6 separate regions of the Homo sapiens genome follow, and regions 1, 3, 4, 5 and 6 are each reported to be linked to region 2. Evidence: microRNA targets listed by miRTarBase, many of them from high-throughput screens and not tested one by one. Region 2 holds a microRNA gene; each other region holds the end of a gene's coding sequence.

Region 1 (5,095 bases), not on the chromosome of region 2:
GTTCAAGACCAGCCTGGCCAACATGGTGAAACCCCATCTGTACTAAAAATGCAAAAGTTAGACGGGCGTGGTGGCACGCGCCTGTAGTCCTAGCTATTCGGGAGGCTGAGGTAGGAGAATCGCTTGAACCTGGGAGGCGGAGGTTGCAGTGAGCCAAAATCATGCCACTGCACGCCAACCTGGGCAACAGAGCAAGACTCTATCTCAAAAAAAAAAAAAAAAAAAAGGGCCGGGCACGGTGGCTCACGCTTGTAATCCCAGCATTTTGGGAGGCCAAGGCAGGCGGATCACGAGGTCAGGAGATCAAGACCATCCTGGCTAACACGGTGAAACCCCGTCTCTACTAAAAATACAAAAAATTAGCCTGGCGTGGTGGTGGGCGCCTGTAGTCCCAGCTACTCGGGAGGCTGAGGCAGGAGAATGGCGCGAACCTGAGAGGCGGAGCTTGCAGTGAGTTGAGATTGTGCCACTGCACTCCAGCCTGGGCGACAGGGCGAGACTCCGTCTCAAAAAAAAAAAAAAAAGTTTCGCCTATGGAAAGCGTTTGCCCCAAGGTCAGTGGTAGAACCCCTCTTCCCCTCTTTCCCTGGCTTCAGCTCCGATCGCCTTTCCTGAAACAAATGGTCCTGATTGGTGTCCCCATCTCCCTTCTCAGCAGGTCGAGTCCCGGGCGCTCACCATGTTCCGGGACATTGCCCAGCAACTGCAGGCCACCTGTACCTCCCTGGGGTCCAGCATTCAGGGCCTCCCCACCAATGTGAAGGACCAGGTGCAGCAGGCCCGCCGCCAGGTGGAGGACCTCCAGGCCACGTTTTCCAGCATCCACTCCTTCCAGGACCTGTCCAGCAGCATTCTGGCCCAGAGCCGTGAGCGTGTCGCCAGCGCCCGCGAGGCCCTGGACCACATGGTGGAATATGTGGCCCAGAACACACCTGTCACGTGGCTCGTGGGACCCTTTGCCCCTGGAATCACTGAGAAAGCCCCGGAGGAGAAGAAGTAGGGGGAGAGGAGAGGACTCAGCGGGCCCCGTCTCTATAATGCAGCTGTGCTCTGGAGTCCTCAACCCGGGGCTCATTTCAAACTTATTTTCTAGCCACTCCTCCCAGCTCTTCTGTGCTGTCCACTTGGGAAGCTAAGGCTCTCAAAACGGGCATCACCCAGTTGACCCATCTCTCAGCCTCTCTGAGCTTGGAAGAAGCCTGTTCTGAGCCTCACCCTATCAGTCAGTAGAGAGAGATGTCCAGAAAAAATATCTTTCAGGAAAGTTCTCCCCTGCAGAATTTTTTTTCCTTGTTAAATATCAGGAATATAGGCCGGGTGCGGTGGCTCACACCTGTAATCCCAGCACTTTGGGAGGCTGAGGCGGGCGGAACACCTGAGGTCAGGTGTTCGAGACCAGCCAGGCCAACATGGTGAAACCCCGTCTCTACTAAAAATACAAAAAAAAATGAGCCGGGCATGGTAGCAGGTGTCTGTTATCCCAGTTAGGAGGCTGAGGCAAGAGAATCTCTTGAACCTGAGAGGCGGAGGTTGCAGTGAGCCAAGATCGCGCCATTGCACTCCAGCCTGGGGGACAAGAGTGAGACTTAGTCTCAAAAAAAAAAAAAAAGAAAAAAAAATCAGGGATATAGTTCATATCCCACTTCTTTGTTTACACCGATGTCCCTGAATATCAGCCTGTAGCTAATGGACTTGGGATTTCTGGTCTAAGTGGGCCTCCTGGGGATGGGGTGGTACACTGAGCTTCTGAGCCTCATTGTAGAGTAGAAAGGTACTGGGGCCTGTGTGGTAAGCCTTGTTGAAATGCTCTGGTATTCAGTATTGCCTTAATAAACTTCACCCACAACTGCATACAGGCCATGTGTGTACGTGTGTGTGTCTTCATCTGTCCCTGCTGCTAGAACAGAAATATCTTAGGCAGGGTAATTTATTTATTCATTTATTTATTTTGTAGAGACGGGGTCTTGCTATGTTGCCCAGGCTGATCTTGAACTCCTGAGCTCAAGCGTTCCTCTCACCACGTCCTCCCAAAGTGCCTGGCCAGGCTGGGTAATTTATGAGCAACAGAAATTGATTTCTCACAGTTCCGGAGGCGGGGAAGTCCAAGATCAAGACACTGGCAGGCCTGGCACAGTGGCTCACGCCTGTAATCCCAGCACTTTGGGAGGCCGAGGTGGGAGGATCACTTGAGGCCAGGAGTTTGAGACTGGCCTGGGCAACATAGCAAGACCCCATCTCTACACAAATTTTTTTTTTTTAAGTTAGCCAGGCATGGTAAGGTGGGAGGGTCACTTGAGCCCAGGAGTTTGAGACTGCAGTGAGCCAAGATCGCACTACTGCACTCCAGCCTGGGCAACAGAGCAAGATACCATCTCGGAAAAAAATCCAAGTGACAATCTACAGTGTTTCTCTACGGTAGCTACAGAGAAGGGGAACTTCAGGGACTTCTCCCAGGGACATGGAGAAGATACATTCTCAGTCTTACTAAATACTGCTGGACTGTTGCCCAAATCATTGTCAGTCTTTTCACTCCCACCCTAAGTCCTGAGAGGGTTCATTTCCCCCATCACCAACCACATGTTACTTTCTCTTTGTTAATCCATATTCAAGTTGAATTCATATGCACCCAAGTATATGAATCTTAAAGGGACAGTTCAATGAATGTTACATAGGAATCCACTCCCTATAACCAACAGCCACAGGGATTACTGGTGCGTGCCCCACCATGCCCGGCTAATTTTTGAATTTTACTAGAGACGGGGTTTTGCCATATTGGCCAGGCTGGCTTTGAACTCCTGACCTCAAGTGATCTGCCCGCCTCGGCCTCCCAAAGTGCTGGATTACAGGCGTGAGCCACTATGCCAGCCTTTTTTTTTTTTTTTTTCGCTCTTTTTTGAGACAGAGTTGTACTCTGTTGCCCAGGCTGGGGTGCAGTGGTACTATCTCAGCTCACCGCAACCTCCACCTCCCAGGTTCGAGTGGTTTTCCCGCCTCAGCCTCCCGAGTAGCTGGGATTACAGGCGTGCACCACCACGCCCGGCTAAGGCTGGAGTACAGTGGCACGATCTCGGCTCACCGCAAGCTCCACCTCCTGGGTTCACGCCATTCTCCTGCCTCAGCCTCCCGAGTAGCCGGGACTACAGGTGCCTGCCACTACAACCGGCTAATTTTTTGTATTTTTAGTAGAGACAGGGTTTCACCGTGTTAGCCAGGATGTAATTTTGTATTTTTAGTAGAGATGGGGTTTCACCATGTTAGCCAGGCTGGTCTCAAACTCCTGACCTCAAGTGATCTGCCCACCTCGGCCTCCCAAAGTACTGAGGTTACAGGTGTGAGCCACCACATCTGGCCCCACCTCATCCTCTTGAGTATCTGGGAACTACAGGCGTGCACCACCACACTCAGCTAAATTATACACACACACACACACACACACACACACACACACAGATGTGGGTCTTGCTATGTTGCCTAGGCTGGTCTCAAACTCCTGGGCTCAAGCGACCTCCCACTCAACCTCCCAAAGCACTGGGATTACAGGTGAGAGTCACTGCACCTGGCTCTCACCCGATCTTTTTCCCAATCCCATCAGATAGATGCTATTATCTCCAGGGAAAATGAGGTGTAATCCAGAGAGCCCACCCTCAGCCCCACCTCAGCTACTAATAGCTGAGTAGTAATTTGAACTCAGGCCAGGCATGGTGCCTCACGCCTGTAATCTCAGCACTTTGGGAGGCCAAGGTGGGCAGGTCACTTGAGGTCAGGAGTTCGAGACCAGGCTGGCCAACATGGTGAAATCCCCCTCTCTATTAAAAATACAAAAATTAGCTGGGTGTGGTGGCACACACCTGTAATCCCAGCTACTGGGGAGTCTGAGGCACAAGAATCACTTAGCCCAGGATGCAAAGGTTGCAGTGAACCAAGATCACGCCACTGCACTCCAGCCTGGGCAACAGAGCGAGACTCTGTCTCAAAAAAAAAAAAAAAATTGGACTCAAAGAGTCAAGTTCTCTCCACGGTGCTTATAACCACCACATTTTAAGGTAGCAATGCCTGTTTTGGAATATCATACATGACACATATGTTGACTTGTGAAAGTGTCAAAGATATATTGACAATGGAATACAGTAAATTTTTTTTTTTTTGAGACGGAGTCTCGCTCTGTAGCCCAGGCTGGAGTGCAGTGGCGCGATCTCAGCTCACTGCAAGCCGCACCACCTCACAGGTTCACACCATTCTCCTGCCTCAGCCTCCTGAGTAACTGGGACTTCAGGCACCTGCCACCATGCCCGGCTAATTTTTTGTACTTTTAGTAGAGACGGGGTTTCACCGCTTTAGCCAGGATGGTTTCGATCTCCTGACACTGTGATCCGCCCGCCTCGGCCTCCCAAAGTGCTGGGATTATAGGCGTGAACCACCACGCCCAGCCGAAAGTATTTATTGTCTGGTCCTTTACAACAAACAGTTTGCTGAACTCTGGCCTATGCGAATTAAAAAGGAAAATCAGATCGAAGAATATTCAGTATCATGATCACGGATCTGTGGATATGTGTGCAAAAGTGGAAAACAGAGGCCGGGCATGGTGGCTCATGCCTGTAATCCCAGCACTTTGGGAGGCTGAGGCAGGCAGATCACTTGAGGCCAGGAGTTCGAGACCAGCCTGGCCAACATGGTGAAACCCCATCTCTACTAAAAATACAAAAATTAGCTGGGCGTGGTGGCGCACAGCTGTAATCCCAGCTATTCAGGAGGCTGAAGTAGGAGAATCGCTTGAACCCAGGAGGAGGAGGTTGCAGTGAGCCAAGATCGTGCCACTGCACTCCAGCCTGGGCGACAGAGCGAGACTCTGACTCCAAAAAGAAAAAAAAAAAAGTGGAAAACAGAATGGATGGGCTTGTGGGTGGAGGCTTCTAGGGGAGGTGGTGGAGAGGGAAAGTAAAAAAAAAACTTGGACTTTTACTGGAATATTATCTTTCTTTCTTTTTTTTTTTTATATTTTTTCTTTGAGATAGGGTTTCTCTCTGTTGCCCAGGCTGGAGTGCAGTGGTGCGATCATAGCTCACTACAGTCTCAACCTCTTGGGCTCTGGTGGTCC
Region 2 (5,095 bases):
GGCAGCAGCAAGTGCAAGGGCCCTGGGTTGGGAAGGAGCTGGATGCTCCCAAACCAGAGAGGAGTCCAGCCGGGCCAGAATAGCGAGAGCAAGAGAAGACTGGTGTGAGAGGGGACTGCCATGAGGCATCATGGAGGAACAAGCCACACAGGGGGTTCCAAAGTCTCCAGGGGATGCTGAGGTAGGGGCACCAACATCTCCAAGCCAGTGATCCACACCTAGCCCTACAAACCCAACTGGTTCTGGCATTCAGGGTGTTCCTGTATGACTGGGGAGGAGCTACCCAAGCCCTGCAGGGAACTCAGGAGCTCTCAGGGCTTTGGGGCCAAGGCCTAAACTTAACCTCCCTCCTTTTCTTTGTCCTTGAAGAGTTCATGGTACAACCTGCCACTGTGCCTGTTGCATAGGCAGTCTCCAAAGGCCACCTCCCCTGGGAAGCCCAGGGTCCTTGGGGGGCCTGGGAAATGATAATCAATTCTATTCCCAGGAGCTACTGCTTTGTTCATGTTATTGCCTAGTCCTCCTTGCCATGCTTTCCAAAGGCTGGGGCTGGTAGCCTCTCCCGTGACTCGTTAGGGCTGTCATTAGCACTGCTTCCTGGAATTTAATTTAATGAAGGAGCAAAAACAGCCCTAATGAAGGTGATGCAACAGCAAACAGCCAAGCAAGGTGCACCTTGCCAGCTGGGCTCAGGGGCTTCCTGTAGATTGTGACTAGGAGCAAGGGAGTAATAGGGGAGGAGGGACCTGTTGCGGGAGGGAAGCTGGTCACTGAGTTCTGGACGCACAAGCATCGCTCTGCCTGTACCGTATGGAGCAAATACTGCGATCAAGGCCAAGCAGACAGAGTTAGGGAAGTGGGCCTTGTCAGGAGTGACTTCAGGCTGTTGGAGAAAAAGCTTTTGAAAAGCTATCAGCCAGTGCAAAGGCCCTAATGTGAGGGCCAGCATGGCATGCCATGCCAACAGGACAGGCTGTGGGCTAGTACCAGGGGGCAGGGGTCAGCAGGGGCCAGATCATCCCGGCCATGGGGCAAGAAAGTTTAAATTGCATTCCAAGTATGAAGGAAACAACTGGAGGGTGTTGAAGGCAGAATGACATCATCTGAATTTTTTTTTTTTTTTTTTTTGGAGACGGAGTCTTGCTCTGTCACCCAGGCTTGAGTGCAGTGGCGCGATCTTGGCTCACTGCAGCCTGTCTCCCAGGCTCAAGCGATTCCCCTGCCTCAGCCTCTGAGTAGCTGGGATTACAAGGCGCGCCCCCACGCCCAGCTAATTTTTTTGTATTTTTGGTAGAGACGGGGTTTTGCCATGTTGGCCAGGCTGGTCTCAAACTCCTGGCCTCAGGTGATCCGCCCACCTCGGCCTCCCAGAGTGCTAGGATTACAGGCGTGAGCTACCGTGCACCGTGCCCGGCCAACATGATCTGATTTTTAAAGTTCCTTCTGGTTGCTATGAGTAGTAGAACCTGAGGATAAGAGAGATGGGAGGATAGGAGGTGGGCACCATTCGAGGGAAATGGAGTGAAGCCTGTGGAGACAGGGCTGTCCCGTCTCCGGGGAGAAGAGAGCTGGTGAGGGGGCGGGGAGCAATTATAACGGGAGTGAGTTTTTGTTTCCTCCAGCAGGTTTGGGCGGGCTGGTCCCCATTCAGCCTTCCCTCCAAATGGGCGTGGCTCAGACACCTAAAGATCGGTCTAAAGGGGCTCCCAATGTCCCCGTATCTGCTTTCCCGCCTTTGTGCACCTCTCTACCTCTAGGAAGCCTTCCTTGCCCTGTCCTGGGTCTTGGCCAGCGGTGGGCTCCCCAGGGACCTCACCAGGACGGCATTTTGCGAGGTAAAAAGCCAGGAGGCTCAGCAGTGGACCGAGAGCTGCGCAGGGTGCAACCTTGCAGGGTGCTACCTGCCCTTGGCCCTGCCCACCGCAGCCCCTCCCTAATTCTTATTTTCCCCCTTGTCCACTCCCAGTGCAACCTCCTAGTTCTTCACCTCCCCCAGGTTCTCTCACCCACGCCCCGCCCAAGGCGTCCTCCCCCGATTCTGGCCTCTCCTGCAGAGCCGAAGCCGGAAGCGGCCTCGGGGTGCGCTGCACCGCCTCTTCCGGGGCCTCTCTAGGCCGGAGCGCGGGATTTCGGTGGCCGGGAGAGGCCGGAACGGCTTCGCGGGGCAGCGGCGCCTCCTGGCGGGCCTGGGGTGCGGCGCGGGAGCCGAGGCCGACCTAGCACCTCCCCGCGCCCCAGCCCCCGCCTCGCGGCCCCCACTCACGGTGGCCCCCGCCTTGCCTGCTCTCCTGTCTCGCTCTGCCTCCGGGCCTGGCCCCCGCCTCCGCCGACCTGCCACTCCTTGGCCGTCGAGGCCCGGTCTCCGCAGAGCTGCAGCCGTCACGCGTCCTCTTGCAACTAGCCCTCTGTGGCACCCCATCCCCCTTGCCCCGCGCGGGGCCCCACCTCGCCAGGGTCTCCTCCGCGATAGCCGCCATCGGCTTACCCTCAGAACGTCCCCAGTGACACCCGCCTTTCTGCTTCGTCCAGCCTAGCGTCTTCACACCCTCCGTCATGAGACGCTCCCTCCTTCTCGCGCTTCCACTTCACAGCAGAGATTAGACGGTGATGTGGGTGATTCTCCCGCTGGGCACCTCGCCTGCTTCCTGAGGGCGGAGTAGCTCCGCATCGCCCATGCCAGCCTAGGGCCGCTGCGCCGTGGGGGCTCGGATGACTTGCTGAGTTTGATTTCAGAGTCATCGGGAGGATAGAGAGGAACTGGGTAAAATTTGCTCTCAGAGGCTCACGCCTGTCATCCCAGCACTCTGGGAGGCCAAGGCGGGCGGATCACGAGGTCAGGAGATCGAGACCATCCTGGCTAACACGGTGAAACCCCGTCTCTATTAAAAATACAAAAAATTAGCCGGGCGCGGTAGCGGGCGCCTGTAGTCCCAGCTACTCGGGAGGCTGAGGCAGGAGAATGGCGTGAACCCGGGAGGCGGAGCTTGCAGTGAGCCGAGATCGCGCCACTGCACTCCGGCCTGGGCGAAAGAGTGAGACTCAGTCTCAAAAAAAAAAAAAAAAATTTCTCTCAGAACACATAGTCAATGGCGGACATAGTCAATGGCGGGTCTGGGGGTCCGGCCTCTTCCTCTACTCCGGGCTTCCCCCAAGGTCAGGCAGTCCGTGGGGGGTCTGGCTGGCTCCCTGCAGTACACACCTGCGCCGATGCCCAGCGTTGAGGCCCTACCCATCCCGGGGGACCTTTCCCCTCCCGCCTCCCGCCCTTCTGTCGGCTTTCTTCCCACGGATCTGCCAGGAAGCCTTCCAGGACTGTCCTGGAGCATCAAGGCTCGACCGCACGGCCATGGGTACCGACCATCCCAGCCACACGGCTGGGCAACGTGTGGTGGGTCACCGCGCAGCCAGACTCCGGCTGGTGACCGCCAGGGGTCAGCAGAGGCCTCCTTTTGCATAGCTTGGCGGATTAGGTCGCTGGCTAATCCTGTGTGTGTAGCCAGGCGGTTTGTAGACTTGTGTGGTTGGAAAGTAGTTTTATGCTTTCAGATTTTTCCAGGGCTGCTCTTCTTTCTAAGCAACCTTCAGTCAATTATTACTGCTCCGCGTTGTTGGAAAGTCAGTTGCTGGGTGACTTTAAACTAGGGTCCAGGCAGACATCTTTTTTCTTTTCTTTTTTTTTTGGAGACAGGGTCTTGCTCTGTAGCCCAGGCTGGAATGCAATGGCGAACTCGGCTCACTGCAACCTCCGCCTCCCGGGTTGAAGCGATTCTCTGGAGGTGCCTCAGCCTCCAGAGTAGCTGGGACTACAGGTGTGTGCCACCATGACCGGCTAATTTTTGTATTTTTAGTAGAGACAGGGTTTTGCCATGTTGCCAGGCTGGTCTTGAACTCCTGACCTTAAGTGAATCCCAAAGTGCTGGGACTACAGGCATGAGCCACCACACCTGGCCTAGGCAGACATCTGAATTGTCCCCTGGGTCTCTCCACGGCTCCTTGCCATCCTTGCCTGCGTCTTGGACCCGCTGTGTCCCTAGCCACCAGCACTTGACCAGGCAGGTCAGTGGCCAAGCTGCACACTCCCTGATGTCCAGACCCCCACTATCCAATCTCTGTCTACTGTTTTCCAGCTCAGTTTCCAGCACCCCCATCCTGGAAGTCTTTCACTGAGCTCAAACCTACCCTCCTACCAGCTGCTTCCATTCTCTCACCTCAATACCTTCTTCTTTCCAGTCTTTCTTCCTCCCACCCACAGACGGAGTCTCACTCTGTTGCCCAGGCTGGATTGCAGTGGTGTGATCTCGGTTCACTGCAGCCTCTGCCTCTCAGGTTTAAGCAATTCTGCTTCAGCCTCCCGAGTAGCTGGGATTACAGGTGTGCGCCATCACACCTGGCTAATTTTTGTATTTTTAGTAGAGACGGGGTTTCACCATGTTGGCCAGGCTGATCTCAAACTCCTGACCTCATGATCCACCCGCCTCGGCCTCCCAAAGTGCTGGAATTACAGGCGTGAGCCACCGTGCCCGGCCAACTTTCCAGTCTTTCTTAAAAGCCACTGTTGGCTCTGCCCCTCTCACTTCACACAAGTTGTTTACACTGGCTCTTTCCAGTTCTACCTCACTTTCTCCTCTGCCCACTCCAGGCAGGCCTGTCCCTCCCTCACAAAAGTGCCCTGGTCAGGGTCCTTAGGGATCCACAGGTGTCCGAATTCAGTGGTCCATCCTCTACCCTCAACTCCTTGGCAGCATCTGACACTTACCTGGCTCCAGGTGCCCATGCTCTCCCAGTTTTCCTCTCACCTCCTGGCTACTCCCGCCCAGCTCCTTTGCTGGTTCTGCCTCATCTTCCAGGGCTCAGTGCTTACTGCCGCCCTCCTCTGTCTGAACTTAGCTTCTTCCCATCCCATGGCTTTAAACACCACTTGCTTTGCTTCCCAGATCCAAAGCTTCATCACTGGCCACTCTACTGAACTCAACGCATACACCCAGCAGTTGACTCGGCACCTGCACTTTGATGTCCAGTCAATGTTTTTTTTTTTTTTTTTTTTAGACGGAGTCTCACTCTGTCACCCAGGCTGGAGTGCAATGGTGTGGTCTCG
Region 3 (4,950 bases), not on the chromosome of region 2:
CTATGCCTGTTGCCCTGAAGCTGCCGGAAGGAAAGGCCCCACTCAACTACTGGGAAGAAAGCCCATAATTCAAGGCTTTTAATACAGTCACTACACAAGCTCTCCCTCTGATTTAGGAGATCTTGTTACCTCCTCATCTACATGTGCTTAAAAACAAAAAGAAACCTATAATTATTCAATTCACCTGTGGTCCAAATAAGTCTCACATCCAGCCATTCCCCTGAGAGGGCAGGAGGCCAGACTTTGAACTTTCCACAGCTGGGTCTTCATTTTACTAGTGAGATAAAGAGGTGCAGATTAGGGTGACAGTCCATCTAAGCAAGTGGACGATCTGGGGAACTGTAGGCCTTGCTGAAGCATCCTCCCACAGAAAGGAGATAAGGGCCTTATCCAATTGGCTGTACACAATAGATCAGTGCTTCTTTCCTAGACAAGGCTGAAAGGGGCCAACATTATTTCTGAAGACTTCATTATTGGAATTCTATGGGAGTGATCTCACTGAGCTATTTTGGAATAGAAATGTGGCTAGTTGCCTGACCTCCCTCAATGGTTTCACGTGGCTTTCAAAGGGAAGGAAGGGCAGTGCTGACTTTTGGTAAAATGGGCGAAAGGGTCCATGCCAGCAACACAATCACTCAAAGTCCAGATGAGGGATCAGTAAATACAACGTGCCTGAAAGGTGGCCCTTGAGCACATTCCTCCGGTAGACATTAACTTATTAAATTGATTCTGATTACAAATATAAACTTTGCCCCCATCTCACCCAGTAACAATGCAAGAGTTGATGTCAGTCTATAAAAGGAAGTAGGAACTGTCCCTGGCTTTCAGGCTCCAACATCCTCCCCCTGTCAAGATGTGGCACCTCAAACTTTGTGCAGTCCTCATGATCTTCCTGTTGCTGTTGGGCCAGGTAAGGAGGGAAGGATACTTATGTGTGTGTGTGGAGTGTGGAGATGATAGTGGTGGTGGAACTTGAAAGCTAGATTCAGTCCTGAGGAATGGTTCCTCTGTTCTGAGTCTACAGCATCTGCGGAATGGAATGATCACTCTTCCAAGGTGTGCAGCAGGGTGTCAACACTTTCATATCTGAATGTCTTTGCCCTTACAGATAGATGGCTCCCCAATACCAGAAGTGAGTTCGGCAAAGAGAAGGCCACGGAGAATGACCCCATTTTGGAGAGGGGTTTCCCTCAGGCCTATTGGAGCCTCCTGCCGGGATGATTCTGAGTGTATCACAAGGCTATGCAGGTACTCCCTGAACCTGGGAGCAGGGTTGGGCCAGAGAGCCCTGGGAAGCTGGGCAGAGGAGTGACAAGGGGACACATGAACCTAAGAATAAAGCTGGGATGGAGGAGTTCTAGACTGAGACTGGGAGCTCCATGGAAAATCCCTTAGGAGTTAGGAGCCAAGAACAGCTCTATGTGGGTACCATGAAAGAGTGGTGCCTTTCCATTCTTCAGTCTTTCCTGAGACTGGACAGATCAAGCAAAGAGGAAGGAAATGCAGCATAGGTGGCCCTGGTCATTCCTAGACCCAGTCTTAAAAAACTACCCTTTCTTTTCCCCTAGAAAAAGACGCTGTTCCTTAAGTGTGGCCCAGGAATGATGTACATACCAGGGAAAGAAAGGACAGCAGTCACCTCCGACAATGCTCCGTTCTATGGAATATTGATTAACTGCATTTTGGCTGGAGACACCCAAGTGAAGCAATCTTGTATTTTTAATATTTAAAGGCAGATGTACGCTTTAAATTGGTCTCCATTTCTTCTTAGAATGTTGATATATGGATAAGCATAACTAAACTTGTCAATTTAGAGTTTATTTTTCTATGGATACTATTAAATGTCTCAAATTGAAATTTTAGCAGTCTGGAATTCAAGCTTTTGAGGGAAAGAAGGATTCATTTTGTATACTAAAGAAAAAAACAGCATTGCCCAATAATGTGTTAACTTCTCAATCTGGAAAGTGTAGTGAGAGCTACATAATCAATAGCTACGTAATCAACTTCAGCAAGTTCCTAAGCTGTGGCCCTGGATCCCTTCACTCCATACTCTTCAGGGAGGTGTCAAAGGTGGTCAAGCTTGGGAGGCTGAGGCAGGAGAATCACTTGAACCTGGGAGGTGGAGGTTGCAGTGAGCCAAGATCATGCCACTGCACCCCAGCCTGGGTGACATAGAGAGACTCTGTCTCAAAAAAAAAAAAAAAAAAAAAAGATGGTCAAGCACTTGCCATCTAATGAAGCACCCAGGTTTGTCTATGGCTGTCTGAAGATAAGGCAGAACAGAGAGAAAAATCTAGTTTAATAAAGCAATGAAAGCCCAAGCCACCAAAAGCACCAAAAGAGATTTAAGATTTCTGTTGGGACAAGGTGAATTTTGACATATGCACAAGGACCCATGGCCAGCAAGTTCAGAATTTCTGTAATCAGAAAATGAGACCTCAGCTGGTGGGAACAGACTTTTAAAGAGTAGTAACGGACCTTAAGACACAAAACAGGAATTGCATGAAAAGGGCTCAGAGTTGAAGAAATATAAAGAGTACAGTGTTCAGTAACTTTAATACAGAAAATCTATTTGATATTTATTAAACTTAGTTTCTCCAACTATGGTTTGGCATTGTACAAAGCATCTTAATGACACAGTAGAGTTAAAAAGATCTTTACAAATTGAAATGTGATACCCTTGTCTCCAAATATTTTAATTGCCATAAATTTGTTTAAAAATACACATTAAACGCATGTTTGACACTCTAAACTTTCTATACTCTCAATACCACAAAATACATATAATATACTATACAGATGTGGAAAAATCTAGTTAGTATATAATACTTTGCTCACCATTAACAGCTTTATCGTGTGAAATGCACATACTGACTTAGAAATCCTAGCTTTTGAGCCCCAAAGTACCTCTGAAATTGTAATGTATTGCAACAAATAAAAATCACAGTATATAATTGAAATTCTGGTTGAAAATGTCAGATGCCTAAATATTTTGGATAAAAGAAATGTAAAACAAAGATTTGGTTCATGTACAAAACAAAGGCATCCTTATCAGTCACTAACAGTACCTTTCTGCAAAATCAACAGGCTTTTAATTTATCAGTGACATTATCTCCCCTCCAAAACCCTCCCCAAATATCAAACAATTATATACCAAATAATTTTAATTTCAAATAAAAGGATTTTCAATAAATATATAAGCATTTCCATCCTCCATATACAAAATTTCTTAAAACCATTCAAAACGGAGGCTAGATAGAAATTTTCATAACTGTGCTTACCAACCCCACAACTGGCCCTTAAAGGTGGTGCCTTTTCAGGCAATGTCAACTGGCCAGTTCTGTTGGTGAGCCCCCTACCCCCACCCCACCCATCCCAGTACTGTTGAATGCTCATGTTAATGATTTGCCAGGTGTGTGCATAAAGTTGTAAAATGGGGACACTTCTGGAACACCAACAACAAACTCAACAATATGGATGATCATGGCATTGATTTGAAAGGCAGCATTTCCAAATTGATATTTTCCAGAGAGGAACATAGCAGGTAGAAAATTCCAATGGTTAAAAGCTGAAAAGAAGTCCCACATGGAAGCAGTAAGAGGTCAAAACTGAGTATCACTAGAGTTTCTGGGTGGGAGCTTTTTTATTTTTAAGAATGGCAAGTTATGTTTAGCTGAGTAACAGTGGCAAGGAGAGGTCAATGCTGACATTCCTGAAAGTCAACTTCTTTACATGATGACTACTTAGGCTGCTATTTTAGGATACTTAAAGATCTCTAAGACTTGGATTAGACTTAACTTGAATACCTTATTCTGTGACCAAATTACATGAAAAGAAGATACATAGTTATTATTTCCATTCCCTTTTCTGGAGACAGCAAGTTCTTTCTAATTAACCATAGGGTTCATGTGAATAGGAGCTTTGTAAGACCAGCATCCACTTTACAGACTATTAATAATTTACTTTTTGTCACTTGCTAACTTGGTTTTGGGGTCTAGAGGTCTAAAGTGAATTTCTCCATTAGCGAGTATCTGAAAGACATGCTCACAAACATGAAAAATTTGGCCTCTTCTCACTACATATTCCAAGGTATTCAATAATTATCTCTTCTATTAGTTTTACTGAATAGCAACCTTAGATGTACAGTATTATTACTGGAAAAAAAGCCTGCCTCTTCAATACATTAATGCATAAAGCTGAAATGAAATTTATGTTCCATGTATTAGGGGATATACAGGTATGATAGGTGTCTATATGGGTTTGAAATGCTCTGTCTCCCCAAGTTACTTAGGTTTTTTAAAAAACATCATCACAAGCTGCCTAACAGTCATCCCCAGTAGATGTTCCTGGGACCCAGACACAAACTCCTATAAATCAAAATATATAATGAGGCCATACTGTTCAATTAGCAACTGGAAAATTAAAATCTTTCCCACCCTGTAAGAGCCCTACGACACTACAGAAGGGCTCAAATACATTTTAAAAGTTAATTTACTACAAATCATAGTAATTAAGCTTTAACAATCTAAAGGAATACACATTGCACCCTTGAACATTAATATTCAAGGTGTCAACAAGAAAGTGTCTTAGATCAATTTAATAAATAATGTGGAAATAGTTGCACTAAGCTAAAATACTAAACACACACATATTTGACAAACTAATTTCATGTTTTCATACATACATACATATATATAAAGTGTGTATGTGTACAGAATTTTAAGATCCAAAGTTGCATACCCTTACACCTAGAAGAGTGCACAGTGTACTCCTCCTCTATATAACTAGGCATCACTGACTGGAACAATCACTGGCTGCTCTGAAACTCCAGAGTACTGGCCTCTAGAGCCAGAACTTTCATTTATAACAAGTGCCTTTTGTAGGCTCTTGCTTCAGAATGCAAGCTCATTCATGAAGAAATGTACCAACGTTTCTGTCATTAAATACAAA
Region 4 (4,000 bases), not on the chromosome of region 2:
CGGCAAGCACATCGCCCACATCGCCCCCTCGGCCCCCAGCCCTGCGGTGCAACTGGCGCCTGCCACACCCCCCATTGGGCACATCACTGTGCACCCTGCCACCCTCAACCATGTGGCCCACCTGGGCTCCCAGCTGCCCTTGTACCCGCAGCCCGTGGCAGTGAGCCACATCGCCCACACCCTCTCGCACCAGCAAGTCAACGGCACGGCCGGCCTGGGGCCCCCGGCTACTGTCATGGCAAAGCCGGCCGTGGGGGCTCAGGTGGTGCACCACCCCCAGCTGGTGGGCCAGACCGTGCTCAACCCTGTGACCATGGTCACCATGCCCTCCTTCCCAGTCAGCACACTCAAGCTGGCTTGAGGACGAGGCCACTCAGAGGCCCCCAGTGGGGACAGGGAGGGGGACCTGTCCCCCACTCTCTCACCCACCAGCTCCACACATTCCAGCCAGGCCCAGGCCAGCCCCCCCACCCACCCCCAGGCCTCCTAGGGGAAGGGGGTGCAAAGACTCTGAGCCAAGGGAGGGAAGGGCCACCCTGCTGCACTAGGACTTGGTAAGATGACTCTGAGAAAATGCGAGACTCTGATGGAATGTGCCACCTGTCCGGCCCAGTGCCAGCTCCAGTGCCGCTCCTGCTTCCCCTCCCTACCCTCGGAAATCAGTGCGATGTGGACGTCACGCTCCCTGACTTCTCCCCCGCCCTGCCCCGCCTTCGTGTGCTGCTGCTGCTATTGCTGTCTGGTGAGGTGGCCCAGGCCCCCGGCTTTCCTCCGGAGCCTCATGTTCTCTTCCCAGGCCTTTGGAGGGGAAATGGGGAAAGCAGAACTGAAGCCACTTGGCCCAGAAAGCTGCGGATTGGGGTGATAAGGGGCCTTGCTCTGAGCACAGGTGACAGATCATAGGAAGTGGCTGGTCTGGAGTCCCACCCGGACAGGTGGGGCCTCAGCCTGGGGCTCTCTGACCCGGTTGCAGTCACTGTGATTCGTTACCGTAGATACTACTTAAAATGATTCTCTACCAACAATAAACCAAACCCAGCCACTGCCAAGCTTCCTGTGCCCTCACCCCAATCCCTGCCACTGGGCTCTGGACCTCAGGAGGGCAGGCTGAGGTGGGGAAGGAGGGACTTGGCTGTCCTTCCCCTTCCCCGTCCCCTGCAGCCTGGGTCTGGATGGGAGGAGAGCCACTGGGCCCCTGTCCCCAGTCCCCAGTCCCCAGCCCTGGGCTTGGCTCTTGGCTTCCAGAAGGCAGCAAAGAGGGGCGCTGTCCTGCGTTCAGCCCCTGATCTCTGACCTCTGCTGAGTGCTGGGCACTGCTCCAAGGGACAGGTGGGCCTGGCGGCCTGTGGGTTTGGGTGCCTCCTGCAGTTTGGGAGACATGGACCAGCATCTGGTCTTGTTTCCAGGAGCATAGAAGCCACATCGTTGAGACATCAGGAAGGTAAAAACCCAGCGGCTTAGCCAAGCCCTAAGCCTGTCCCCAGACCAACCCTGGGACCTATACAGAACAGAGGGCCAGAGCTAGGGCTGCTGCTTCTGCTCCAGCCCCTTTGCCTCTGTCCTCCCATCCCCTCAACACCCTGCTTCTCCCGGGGACGCTTTTGAGTGGGCCCTGCCCGGGGAGCTGCAGAGCAGCAGCACCTTTCTCTGAGAAGAGGTCCTTGGTTGGGTCAAGGACAGGGCTGAGCGTGGAAGGGGGAGGAGTCAGGGGCTCTGTGTTAGGATGCGGCTTTCTCTGCCTCTGGGCAGCCTGCTTTGGCCTTTCCTTGTATGTGGGTGTTTATTACAAGTGGCTTTGTGTCAGACACGCTCGGCTCCCCACCTGGACACACACTCACCAGTGGCCTTTCAGTGTAGCGGGAGGAAGCCGGTGTCCCTGGATGTGAAGCTCACACTGATGGGCTGGGGCAGGGGCCTGGGCCGGCGAGGGGGCCGGGGGGAGGGGACAGAGCTGAGGATTTCCTGGAGTGCCCTGCAGGCACAGAGGAGGTCAGCAAAGGTCTTGAATAGATTTTCTCTGGAAATAAAGAATCCTTAGATGCCTAAAAATTCCCTTCCTGTTCCCTCCTGGTCCTGGACACCTCCCAGGGGACTGTTCCTTATTTCTCTCTCCTGGTGTGGGTAAAGGGACAGTTACAAACCAGGTCACCATCCTCAGAGGCTGAGCCCTGTACCCACCCCAGCACAGCCACCTCCGCCAGACCCCGTGGCTCTGGGAGAGCCAGCTTTGCTATTCCCATTGTGACAGCGATGGCAGGCCTGACCCACGGGGCAGTTAGAGCAGCCTCGTGGAGCTCGCCCCTCCCCTCAGCCTGCCCACCTCTCCCTGCATCCTGAGGCCAGTGGCCCCCGGGCCTGCACAGATACCTCATCATCCACCCGCTGCCCCTCCCCGTCCCTGTCCCCCAGCATCGGGGGCCTGCAAATCTAGTGCCGAATGACTATGTCCAGATTGGTGACGATGGGTGTTGCTGTTTTTCTTGTCGTTTGTGAACGCTGTGATGCTGTGTGCCCAAGTGGGCAGTCACCACCCAGCCCTTCCTTGGGCGTCTCCCCCAGAGTGCTGTCGGGACCACATCTGTCCTCACCCTGTGGGACCGCCTGGCCCTCCCTCCCTAGCCCTTCCAGCCTGGGACACACACACACACACACACACACACACACGCACGCACACGCACACATCTTACCTCTCATGCGTGTTTTACCTTTTGATGTTCAGAGTGGCTCACTGGCTGGGAGTCCTTACCTCGGGGAGAGGGGGAGGTTGGTTCCTTGGGGGGCCAAAGAAGGCAGGGAATGCCTGGAGGGTAACTGGGGGGCCACCATGACCCCTTCTCTCTCCAGAAACAGCTGCTTCTCCCCCCATCCCAGGGTCCCACCCCCAACCCCCAGAGGTGGCCCTTGTTTACAGTGAGGACTCGGCCACTGTGTCTCTGTTTCCTGAAATATAAACTGTAGCGACCCCAGACTGTAGAGATTTTTATGTGTTTGGATACATCTGCTGTGTGGAAAAAAAAAAAAACTACAAAAACCCTAATTTTGTACATACTGTATTTTTACTATTGAACTGTATTCTAGTGGCTGTTCATGCTCCAAGACTTTAGTTACCGAGACATGAATACTATCCATGTAATAAGCACTTGCCTGGAATAAAATATAAAACTGAAATAAACCTGCACTGAAACCTGAGATGGAGCTGCCAGCCTGCAGCATCTGGGTCATTTTATTGCAAAAGGAGGCTGAGGCCTGTAGGGAAGCATGTGGCAGGAGCGGTGAGATCACCTGTCTCGACCCTGTCTGCCCAGCATAGTCCTCAAGCGGCTCTGACCCGGTGCCTCCGCCGCTCTGAAAATGGCAGTTCTGGTCGGTCTGAAACTTTTGCAAAGCTTCGTATTTCCTCAGACCATTTTACAAGCATTATCTTGTTTCATCTTTCAACAGCCAAGTGAAGTAAATAAGCCAGACTTAGCCCCATTTTGGCAGATAAGGAAACAGGATTGAGGTGGCCCAGTGACTTGTTGAGGCCACACGGCTAGCTGGAGACTTCGTTGGAGCTGCAGTCAGACCTCTGAACTGGGTACAGAGTTCTTACCCAGCATCTGCCACCCTTGTGGCACCTGGGGCCAGTCCTAGACTCGGATCCAATAAAAAAGGTACAGGGGAGTTGCCCCAGGGATTGGGCACAGAGGGTGAGAGCTTCCTGAGGGGCTGCTCTGGGGGTGCAGTTACAACAGGTCAGCCGGGGAGTCCATAAAGCTGTCCTCTAAGGGAAAGGAACAAGGGGAAGAAGAGGCTGGAGGTCAGGGGCAAAGAGCCGTGTTCTCAGCTGGGCTGGAAGCCCCTTGTCCCTGTGGCTGTGTCTTCTCTCCCTGGGCAGGCTGTCATGGGAGGAGGTGGTGTGGGAAGTGAGGTCAGGGAGCCACTAGCTAGGCCTTGCTGGAGACCAGGCTGGGCAAGGGGGCCCAGCTTCTCATTTCCACCCTGACAGTACCTGACTGAC
Region 5 (4,893 bases), not on the chromosome of region 2:
ACACTAACTGCACTCAGCCCGTTTGGTAGGGGATGAAGAAGAGGGACTGTTGGGAAGGGCGGTGGCCTCTGGGCTGGATGCTGGCAAGAGGGATCTGTGACCCAGATGACGATGTCTGGTGGGAATTGCTTTATAGCTAAGTCAGCAATCCTCATGTCTTAGGCCTGGCAGGGCCAGCCTAGGCCATTGAGTCCAGCTCCCCTTCCAGGGACATGGCCACGCGAGTCTGCACACACACCTGCCCAGTGTAGTCACGGCCCCAGAGCTGCTCAGGCAGGGCTCACCGTCTTTCCTGGGTTCTGATGGCTGTTGTGAGGCAGCTCAGTAAGGGACAGGGCGCAGGGCAGGGAGGGAAGGGGAAGGCTGAATTCAGGGCTTCAGCTCACAAGAAACCGCAGAAATGGATCCTTAGTATCCAGGCTAAGGACACAGAACGGGGGCAGGACGGGTGGGGCGGGCCGCTGTGTCCTGGAGCCTTTGCTGGAGAGAACAGAGGGCAGGTCACACTGGACTTGTTGTCTCAGGATGGAGCCTTCAGGGAGAAAACATGGCACCTTGCTCCAGTAGCCACGATACCAGGAGTGGAGGAGGGTGTCCCCGGGATACAGGTCTTCCTCCTTGCTCTCTAACCCTCTGCCCCCAGGATCAGTGAAGTGGAGCCCAAATACTATGCAGATGGGGAGGACGCCTATGCCATGAAGCGGGACCTCACTCAGATGGCCGACGAGGTAAGCGCCTGCATGAAGCCAAGCAAGGCGAGCGGGGGCGGCACTCAGGAGCCCCAAGACAGTGGCTGCAGGCGAGACCGACTTTGGATGCCAGCTCTTGTGGCTACGTTGCCAGGAGTCACGACCTCAGTTTCCTAGGCTGGGCTTTAGAGGAGGCCATCTGCCTAGCAGCCTGGAGGGTGATGGGAGAGGCAGAGGGAGGAGGCTTTTAGAAGGGAAGTGGGGAGGTCTAGGGACCAGTGGGTGGCCTGCCTGCTCAAAGGTAGTTCTGAGTCAGGGTTCTGCCCAAGGCTCATCGGGTGGCAGGGCTGGTCAAGGGGCAGCGCTCTGTCGTGGGGGCCTCCATGGTAGTCGGTAAGCCCAGGTAGCGGTGGACTGGGGCTCCAGCCAGGTGTCCCCACTCAGTCCCGCGTGTCCTGCCTAGCCCTGCTGCCTCACTATGCCCCTCTCCTCAGCCAGCGACAGGGCCAGGCTCCCTTTGTCTGGAAACTTAGGCCCTGTCTCTTTGCCCCCGCTTCTCCCTGGGTTCCTGGTGGCAGCTGAGGCGGCACCTGGAGCTGAAAGAGAAGGGCAGGCACGTGGTGCTGGGTGCCATCGAGAACAAGGTGGAGAGCAAAGGCAATTCACCTCCGAGCTCAGGAGAGGCCTGTCGCGAGGAGAAGGGCCTGGCTGCCGAGGATAGTGGTGGGGACAGCAAGGACCTCAGCGAGGTCAGCGAGACCACAGAGAGCACAGATGTCAAGGACAGCTCAGAGGCCTCCGACTCAGCCTCCTAGAGCCTGCCCCATCCCCTCCTCACCCCACGAGCTTTCACAATAAATTCGCTCCGTGGCACTGGGGAACTTTGTGTGTGAGCGCGCGCACATTTAGAGGGTGTGTTTCTCCAGGTCCTCTGGTGGGGATGTGAGCCTTGGCCTTTTGACCCAGAGCATCCTGCCAGGCCCGAGTACAAGGAAAGAGCTTTGGAGGTGGGACTCCCTAGTCTCATGACCTTCAGCAGCTGTGGCCCCGGGGAAGGAGGCCCTGGACTTATGGGAGAGACCCTGCCTTGGAGGTCTGCTTGGCCACGCTGAATGTGTTTTGTGGCACAAGCCGGGGCTGCTCAGGCTCAAAGCTCAACAGCAGGGCTCCCACTCTTGGTGGCCTTCAGTTCTCTTCCCACCTTCACCTTCAGACTTTCTCTCCCTAATCACACCTGCTTCGGGCTACAGCAGCTCCCCAGCATACCCGTGGGCTCCAGATGTGGACATCCAACTGCTCATTGGGCTTATCTACAAATGTCCTGTCTGAGTAATGACCCAGCCAGATGCCCCATCAACAGTCCTTGAGTCCTCCCTCCCCTGCCACCCTAATGGTCAGTGAGTCCATGATACCTCTTGAGTCTACTCCCTAACCTGAGTTTGCATTTGAAAATAATTTATTTTTAGTACAATTCCCCGCGTTTCCCCATTGACATTTTGTATTAGTTGGTGTATTTGTTATTGTTGATGCGCCAATACTGATAAGTTATTGTAAACTACAGCCCATGGTTTACAGTAGGTTTCCTGTCTGTGTTGTACAGTTTCTATGGGGTTACACAAATGCATAAAGCCATGTATTCCCTCATTAACAATTTCATGCAAAATACAAAACTGGGCGGCTGTTGGGTGCGGTGGCTCATGCCTGTAATCACAGCACTTTGGGAGGCCAAGGTGGGCGGGATCACTTGAGCTCAGGAGTTGGAGACCAGCCTGGGCAGCATGGCGAAACCCCATCTTTACTAAAAATAGAAAACTTACCCGGGTGTGGTGGTGCATGCCTGTAATCCCAGCTACTCGGGAGGCTGAAGCAGGAGGATCGCTTGAGCCCGGGAGGTGGAGGTTGCTGTGGGCCCTGATCATGCCACCACACTCCAGGGACAGAGACCCGTCTCAAAAAAAAAAAATATATATATACATATATATATACATATACACATATATATCAAAATCCTGTTTTTCATGGAGTCACCCTAACCGTAACGCTCGTTTCTGTGTCTTTCCTCCTTTCCCTTCCCTCCCCTCCGGCTGCAAAGCCATCATTTACTGTCCCTAGTCCCTGGGCGGGCCCTGTATTCCTGAGCCCTCTCTGTGTCCTGCTACTGCAGGTGGCACACTGCTCCTCCGCCGGGTTGAAAACTCGCCACACAGGCCTGGAGCTCGGTTCTCTTTGGCTGGCGCCTCGCACGTGACCAGCAGGCAGCCGGCAGCTGTGGAAGCGGAGCCCAGAGCGCGGCAGGGCGGGGCCGGGGCCGGAAAGGCGCGTCTGCGCACGCCCACAGCTCTCCGCTTCCCGGCTCGGGCGAGGCTGTGTTGATTGGCTTAAGACGTGGGCTTCCCTTTGTATGGGCCGGAGGCGGAGTCCTGTCCCGCCCCGCGCCTGGCGGCAGTGTCTTCCGGTTCGCAAGCCCGCGGCGAGGTTCGTTCCCAGGCTCTGATTGGTCCGGCGGCACTGGGCTCGCGCGCAGGGTGCGGGGGAAGGGCGGGCTTGCGCACTGCGTCGGCCGCGCCCCGGCACCGGTGGAAGGGAGGTGTCCCAGGCTCCCACGGCGCCCGCGGCGCCCTCCTTCCGCCCCGGCCAGGCCCATGGGACCCGGCCCGCCCTCTGCCGTCCGTCCCCGGCGGGCCCGATGCCTGTCGGCCGCTGAGCCTCCGTCCCCATGCGGGCAGGTCCGCGCCTTCTGCGGGCTGCCTGGCTTTTGGATGCTTTGAAGGGGAACAATGGAGCGAAGGATAGACGGAGCAGCAGGGGGCAGTTGCGTTCAGGGCCTTAAATGCCAAACAAGTGCCCTAAAAGCCAGGGCCCAACACTCAGGCCCTAAAGTACGGGCTGAATGGGGCATCCTAGGAATAGCTCTGGAGTGAAAAAAGGAGTGAAGAGAGCGTTTGAAGGCACCGGCTGAGGCCTTTCCTGCCTGCCTGAGCCCTGTGGCTGGCTCTGCTGGGTGGAGGGACCTTTGGGGACCAGTCAGGGCTCGGATGGAGGGGCAAGATGTGTTGGGGCCAGCTAGTGAGAGGCGGGGCTCCCTGGTTCCCCTTGGCCTGAGGCAGCGGTGGGACGTGTGAGTCTCCCGACCAGGAGCAGGTTGGAGTGTGGGTGCGGCTGTACGCGCTGTGGGCAGGGGCGCAGGCTCTCTAGTCTCGCTGGAGGACTCGAACATCGGTACTTCCGAGACCAGCTGCTGGAAGTCCAGGTCCTGGGTCTGGCTAGCTCCCAGGCCTTGAAGCCCCAGGTCCTGCAGACACACACGACGACGTGTTCGAGAAGGGCCTTGGTACTGGGAGAAGGGGGCGGGGAGCTGAGGGAGTGTTTTTTTCCTTCTGGGCAAGAGAATTAATTGCTCACAGTTGAAAGGCAGGAAGTACCCGCACAGCCTCCCCTCCCCAGATCTGCAGGTCAAGGTCATGTGTGCCCGCATTTGCACAGAGCCTGACTCTGACATCCGTGCACACACACGCCTAGTACCCCTGCACTAGTGCCCCCACGCCCGCCTTCGGAACACACGCCTGGTGCCCAAGTGCCTTGCCTCTCTCCCCACATCTATACCCCAGGGATTTCCCTCCCACCAAATTGAAGCCAGTTGTCTGCTTGGCTTGTCAACCGCCTCCCGCCTCCCGCCTTCCCGATTTCCCGGAGAAAAGCTGCTGCCCTGTGGTAGAGGGTGGAGGAAAGCCCCACCACCCCTGGATGAGGGGGGCCCCAAGACTTGCCCCCAGGGTAGCTAAGACCTCACTCCGAGGGGGCTGCCCCCCTCAGGCCTATGACGGGCAGGTGCAGCTGCAGGGGAAGGGAGGCAGAGCAGTCTCTTCCGGCAGCAGGAAGTGGTAACCGCCTATGGGGAAATTGTGGGGCTGAGCAGAAGGGGAACCGGAGCTGAACTCTCCTCCCCTACCAAGGGGGCCTGGAGGGAACGGCAGCCAGCTGCTGAGGTTCTGCTCTCTGGTGCTGACCTTCCTTCCCCCTCCCCTCTGAACTTCCCACCCCAGCTCTCAAGGCTCCCTGGGGCTCCCTGGGCCTCTCTGGGGGCTGACTTGGGAAGGGAGGACCCCATCGGATGTCTGGGGGAAGGAGGCAACCCAGGGGGAGTCCAGAGCCTGGGGCAGCAATGGTGTTCATGGCCACTGGTACAGTGGGCCAGCGGCCCCGC
Region 6 (5,095 bases), not on the chromosome of region 2:
AATCCACTCCCCACAGGGTTTCTGAAGGAGGCCAGGAGGGTGGCAGGGAGGGACAGGTGCGGCTGGGATCTGGGGCCACCCACCCACCGGGCAGCCTTGGCCCATCCACCCTGGATGTTATGCACTGAATGTCTGTGTCTCCTCAGACATCTTTGTGTGTGTGTGTGTGTGTGTGCGTGTGTGTGTGGTTTTTAAGTTTTTAGTAGAGATGGGGTCTTGCTGTGTTGCCCAGGCTGGTCTTGAACTCCTGGGCTCAAGCGATCCTCCTACTTTGGCCTCCAAAAGTGCTGGAATTACAGGCATAAGCCACCGTGCCCGGCCACCAGTCACATTTTGAAACCATGACCGCTAGTGTGATGGTGTTAGGAGGGGGCCTTTGGCAGGCGATTTGGGTTAGATGAGGTCGTGAGGGCGGAGCCCCCACAATGAGATTGGTGCCCTGGTAGGGGGTGAAGGGACCAGCACTTTCTCTCTCGGGCTTGTGAGGACACAGTGAGAAGGTGCTGGCTTTGAACCAGGAAGCGGGCCTCTAAGAACCTGACCCTGCCGGCATCCTGACCTCAGACTCCTGCAGATTGGTGGGAAAGCAAATGCCTGTGTGGAAGCCGCACAGTCTATAGCAGCCTGTCACGGCAAGCTGAGCTAAGACACCGTGCCTCAGTTTCCCTCCCTGTAACACGGCAGCTGGAGAGGGTGTGTCCTGGCCTCAGAGGTCACCCATGTGGAAGCCGCATGGTCTACAGCAGCCTGTCACGGCAAGCTGAGCTAAGACACCGTGCCTCAGTTTCCCTTCCTGTATCATGGGAGCTGGAGAGGGTGTGTCCTGGCCTCGGAGGTCTCCCATGCAGAGGCGTTGTATAGCACCCATGGGGCTGTGTGTTTTTGGTCAAAAGCCTGGGTCACGCTAAGGGCAGCCAGTGCCTTGGCCCGGCCGTGTGGCTCAAGAGAGACCCTGGGCCTCCAGGCTGACCTCCCTGGGGTGGAAGGAAGAAGGGAAGAGGTCCTTGCCCCTCACTGGGGTGGCGTGGGTCCTCTGACCTCCTTCGGAGGGTTTTGACTGTGGCTGTGGGCTGGCGATGCCCTGCCTCCTGGGCCTGGGGGCACAGCTTCTCCAAGTTGGGCCAGCACAGCCTGAGGTATAAGCAGTGACTCTGAAAATCCAGAACGTCACGTGAAGTCTCCAGGTGTTTAGATGGTGACTCAGGCGAAGATGGAAAACTGCCTGCTGAAGACACAGAACCGAGGTCCCATCACGAGGAAGGTGCAGGCGGACAGGCCGGGGGCATGGACCACAGAAGGACGGGCCGGCAGCCCTCATAGGTGCGAGGTCACAGGGGTCGGGGAAGGCCCGGGAGCTGTGCCGGGCCAAAGAAGGCTGCCCTGGGTGAGGTCTGTCCCTGCAGCATCCTCTGATCTGAGATCCACTGGCTGCGTGTCTTTCCCAACTCTGACCTTGGGAGGACACCTGCGTTCCAGGAGACACAGAAGCGAGCTCAGGGTGGTCAGCGCCTCCCAAAGGATGCAGAGGACTCTCATGCTGCGGGTGCAGCTTTCTATGAACATGAGATCCTTTCCACAAAACAACACGCCCTGCCCGCGTGTTCCTCATCCGAGACGCGCAGGACCAGAAAAGTGTTTTGGAGCTCAGATTGTTTGGAGTTTGGACACTATATTTGCATTATACTTACAGGTTGAGCATTTTTCTCTGCTTTTCTTTTTTCAAATACTGCCACTTGGCCAGGTGTGTTGGCTCATGCCTGTAATCCTAGCCTCACCTCAGGGAGGCTGAGGCGGGTGGATCACCTGAGGTCAGGAGTTCGAGACCAGCCTGACCAACATGCTGAAACCCTGTCTTTACTAAAAATACAAAAATTAGCCAGGCGTGGTGGTGCCTGCCTGTAATCCCAGCTACTCGGGAGGCTGAGGCAGGAGAATCACTTGAATCTGGGTGGCGGAGGTTGCAGTGAGCTGAGATCTCACCACTGCACTCCAGCCTGGGCGACAGGCTCTGTCTCAAAAAAAAAAAAAAAAAAAAAAAAAGTGAAATCCCAAATGTTCTGTGTGCACCCCGAGCCCATCAGTGCTCAAAAGGTCTTGGGTTTTGGGGATTTCCGACTTTGAATGTGGGGTCAGGGTAGCCTCAGCTGCATGTGCATATCAAAAGGTGGGGGCTCATGAAATGCGTCATGGGCTGGCGGGGCTCCAGGCCCTGCCCCAGGACCCAGCACGGCCACCCCACTGCCAGAGGGAGGTGGGCTGCAGCATGGAGAGGCAAGTTCAGAGCAGCCCCCCTGCCCCGCCTACGGTTCACCTCTTCACCAGAGATAGGACCGGCAGAAGAGGCTTATGACGGAGAGTTTGGACTTCAAAACCGCAGTGAGCCCTGCCAACGTGAGAGCCCGACTCAGCAGACAAGGCCCACAGCCGGCTTTGCACTGGGGCACGACCCAGGACGTGGGGACCACGGGGCTGGGCCAGCTGCACGGGGGAATTCACCCCACAGGCTGCTGGGCAACAAAGCGTGATGAGGAAACACCACTTGGTGCAGGGCAGAGCCAGTGTCCCCGACAGACAGGAGGGAGGTCGGTCTTTCCACAGACTGGTCTGACAGGCAGGGACTCCTCCTGCTCCAGGGAGCAGATGGTGAACAGGCGGGGGACAGAGGACACGGCTGGACTCCATGAGGATGTGGCCTCTCTTCACGGGGAGGTGGCCCGGCTCCATGAGGCCTGGCCTGGGGCCTGCCTGCCCGGCCCTGGCAGCCTCATCCTGGGATGGGTGCCATCCCTGGGATGGGACAAGGGGGCTGTGGGCTTTGGCTCCTGGGTGCCAGGAAGCCTCATCTGCACCCTGGGTGGCCCCAGCCGCTCCCTATGCTGGGCCTGTGGTCAGGAACTTCCTGCTATGTGGGAGTGAATCCCCCACAGTCCAACGGCCACCTCCTCATCCTCACTGAGTCACGTTTGAGGGGGCACCCGGGCCCTCCACAGCCCAGGGCAGATGCTGGTGAGCCAGAGCCTGAGGCCCCGAACCTGTGGCCCGGGGTGCGTCTGTGCCGCAGAGACCAGAGGACTGTGCACCAGCGGGAGGACTGGGCCCTGCAGAGTGGCATCGGCTGCACCCTCTGAACAAGAGGGTACTGCAGGACAGACGCGTCACTCGCCGGCCAGAGTGGGGGCAGGCTGAGGGACTCCGCTGTGGATCTGGAGGCTGGGAGCAAAGGGAGCAAGTGACAGAGTGGCTGGAGCTAGAATCAGCCCCTTGCAGGGAGCACCCTCCCTCCCTCTTGCGCAGGGAGCACCTACCCTCCCTCTTGGGCGCACCCAGGTCCCGGTGCTCGGCCGGGCATCATGGTCTAGTGCTGCGGGGCAGACAGCGTCCCAAGTGGCTCACCCAACAACTGATGCCTTTCCTCGGGCACCTCCCACACTCAGATCTCACTGGGCCAGCTGGCGCCCCGCCCGCCCGTGATGCCCCTGCCTGTAGCACTGAGGCTCATCCCCCGCTGGGCCTCAACTCTCCCATCTGTGACAGGGGCGTGGGGACTCCTCGGGGCACGAGGACTGGAAGAGACAGCGCGGGACGGGCTGATGAACAAGGAGGAATGCGACTGCCGAGACCTCCTGGGAAGCCCCCACCCCAAGTGCAGGTGCGTGGGCCCCTGGTCAGGGTCAAGCCCCTTGAGGCCCGAGGGTACCCACTCCCATGGCCCTGGAGCACCAGGGAGCCCAGCCGAGCCGCTAGAAAGCAGGGAGAGGTCATGTTGGTCTGGAACGCGTCACAGGGGGGACGTGCCGCGGCACCATGTGGGGGGCTCGTCTGTGGGGAGGGCTGCCCCACTGGGGACCTGGGGACGGAGGCCCTGTGGGCCGGCGGGAGCACCAGGCAGCAGTGTGGGTGGGGTTGGTGGCGCCGGCACAGAGAGGGGTGGGCCCCCAGCCCGAGATGCTCCCTCCAGGGCCGGAGGAGGCTGGCGGCGGTGCGGCCTGACTGGGCACCCTTCTGGAGCGGCCACCCCTCGGCTCGTCAGTCAACACAGTCCCTCACTAGGGGACAGCTCCGTCCTTGCCACCTGAGCCTGCCCAGCCCTGGCGGACAGTGCCCTCTGCTGGCCTTCCGGTGCCAGGGTGGCCCGTCCTCATCCCGCGCCAGCACCTCCCCCAGGGACTCCGGCACAGTCCTTGCCCTCTGTGGCCAGGCTGTCCCACCGCCTCTGTCCTCTCATGGGCTCGCGCTGTGTGTCATAGCGTCAGGGCCTGGGCCGCTGTCCACAGGGCGCCTGGTGACAGTGGCGGCAGCAGCAGCAGCATGGTGGCAGCCACCAGTGGGCCTGGGGCCCCCGGGGGAGAGGATGCCCCAGAGGTGCATGAGCAGACCTCGTAACCGTCCTCCGAGCGGCTCTGGTCATGTTGTCCTGGAGGGGCGCGGGGCCCCTCTGCCGCGTCCACGCCCGCAGCCACAGATCCATCGGCCTGTGAGTCTCCACACACCAGCCAGTCCCGGGCCGTGGACTGTGGGTACCCGGGTGCCACCTCCAGCTCGCCATCCAGCACTTTCCAGTACTCCTGGCCACGGAAGAAGTAGGAGGCACCTGAGAAGAGGAGGGAGAGCTGAGCTCAGGGGAGGGCTGCAGCAGGAGGGGCTCGAGCCGGACAGCGAGGAGGGAGCGTTGGGCTCAGGGAGGGCTGCAGCGGAAGGGGCTCGAGTCGGGCCAGACAGCAGGGGGCTTGCACAAGACTGCAGTGGGGGGTCAGACCAGACGGCTGGTGGGGGGCGGCTCGTGCTAGATGGCAGGGGGTGCCCAGATAATATCTGAGATGGGGTCAGCATCTGCTCAGCTGTGGGCAGCTCTGCAGGCATGGTCACAGGCCTGGGAAGCTCCAGAGGAGCCTGCTGGGGCAGGGGATGGACCAGGAGACCCTCAGAGTCTCTTTCCCTTACTGGATATTTATTGAGGGCCCACTCTGTGCAGGGCTGTTCCAGGTGACAAGGATGCAGCGTTGAAAACAAAACAGAGGATGCTGCCGTCCCTGGAGCTGACCCTGTGGGGAGGTTTCTTCTACACTGTGGGACGTGGCAGGGGTGATGCCCAGGA

What was found. The annotated mature microRNA hsa-miR-5787 reads GGGCUGGGGCGCGGGGAGGU and lies in region 2 at 2,222-2,241, opposite strand. An mRNA with a match to its seed (bases 2 to 7 or 8) in the 3' UTR can be bound and repressed. Matches are read on the target gene's strand: a 7mer-m8 pairs with bases 2 to 8, a 7mer-A1 pairs with bases 2 to 7 and ends in A, and an 8mer does both.
Region 1: miRTarBase lists PLIN3 as a target of hsa-miR-5787. Seed matches in the 3' UTR shown: 7mer-A1 at 1,396-1,402.
Region 3: miRTarBase lists LEAP2 as a target of hsa-miR-5787. Seed matches in the 3' UTR shown: 7mer-m8 at 2,157-2,163.
Region 4: the mRNA of MNT is a reported target of hsa-miR-5787. Seed matches in the 3' UTR shown: 7mer-A1 at 444-450, 8mer at 1,035-1,042, 7mer-m8 at 1,215-1,221 and 7mer-m8 at 2,531-2,537.
Region 5: miRTarBase lists NAA10 as a target of hsa-miR-5787. Seed matches in the 3' UTR shown: 8mer at 2,026-2,033.
Region 6: miRTarBase lists MMP17 as a target of hsa-miR-5787. The part of its 3' UTR that is shown has no 7-base or 8-base seed match.

The regions. Positions count from the first base shown.
Region 1 is chr19:4,835,097-4,840,191 of GRCh38, reverse strand. It overlaps PLIN3 (perilipin 3), which reads left to right. Exons shown (of 8, transcript NM_005817.5): 8 at 656-1,851. The coding sequence ends at 1,000. Among named protein-coding and RNA genes, the nearest start is that of TICAM1, 5.9 kb to the right of the region's middle.
Region 2 is chr3:50,224,584-50,229,678 of GRCh38, reverse strand. MIR5787 (microRNA 5787) reads right to left here and starts at 2,243; the gene lies at 2,189-2,243. It also overlaps a transcript of GNAI2 not described here. RefSeq lists a silencer at 2,031-2,400 and an enhancer at 2,913-3,722.
Region 3 is chr5:132,872,842-132,877,791 of GRCh38, forward strand. LEAP2 (liver enriched antimicrobial peptide 2) reads left to right here and starts at 827. Exons shown (of 3, transcript NM_052971.3): 1 at 827-910; 2 at 1,109-1,248; 3 at 1,569-2,205. The coding sequence starts at 854. The coding sequence ends at 1,605. AFF4 (ALF transcription elongation factor 4) reads right to left here. Exons shown (of 21, transcript NM_014423.4): 21 at 2,554-4,950.
Region 4 is chr17:2,383,262-2,387,261 of GRCh38, reverse strand. It overlaps MNT (MAX network transcriptional repressor), which reads left to right. Exons shown (of 6, transcript NM_020310.3): 6 at 1-3,189. The coding sequence ends at 361. Among named protein-coding and RNA genes, the nearest start is that of MNT, 16 kb to the left of the region's middle. RefSeq lists an enhancer at 455-1,279.
Region 5 is chrX:153,926,598-153,931,490 of GRCh38, reverse strand. It overlaps NAA10 (N-alpha-acetyltransferase 10, NatA catalytic subunit), which reads left to right. Exons shown (of 8, transcript NM_003491.4): 7 at 644-728; 8 at 1,268-2,266. The coding sequence ends at 1,504. Among named protein-coding and RNA genes, the nearest start is that of ARHGAP4, 2.8 kb to the right of the region's middle. RefSeq lists silencers at 2,913-3,472, 4,883-4,893.
Region 6 is chr12:131,850,421-131,855,515 of GRCh38, reverse strand. MMP17 (matrix metallopeptidase 17) reads right to left here. Exons shown (of 10, transcript NM_016155.7): 10 at 3,745-4,591. The coding sequence ends at 4,242. Among named protein-coding and RNA genes, the nearest start is that of MMP17, 25 kb to the right of the region's middle. RefSeq lists an enhancer at 3,900-4,069.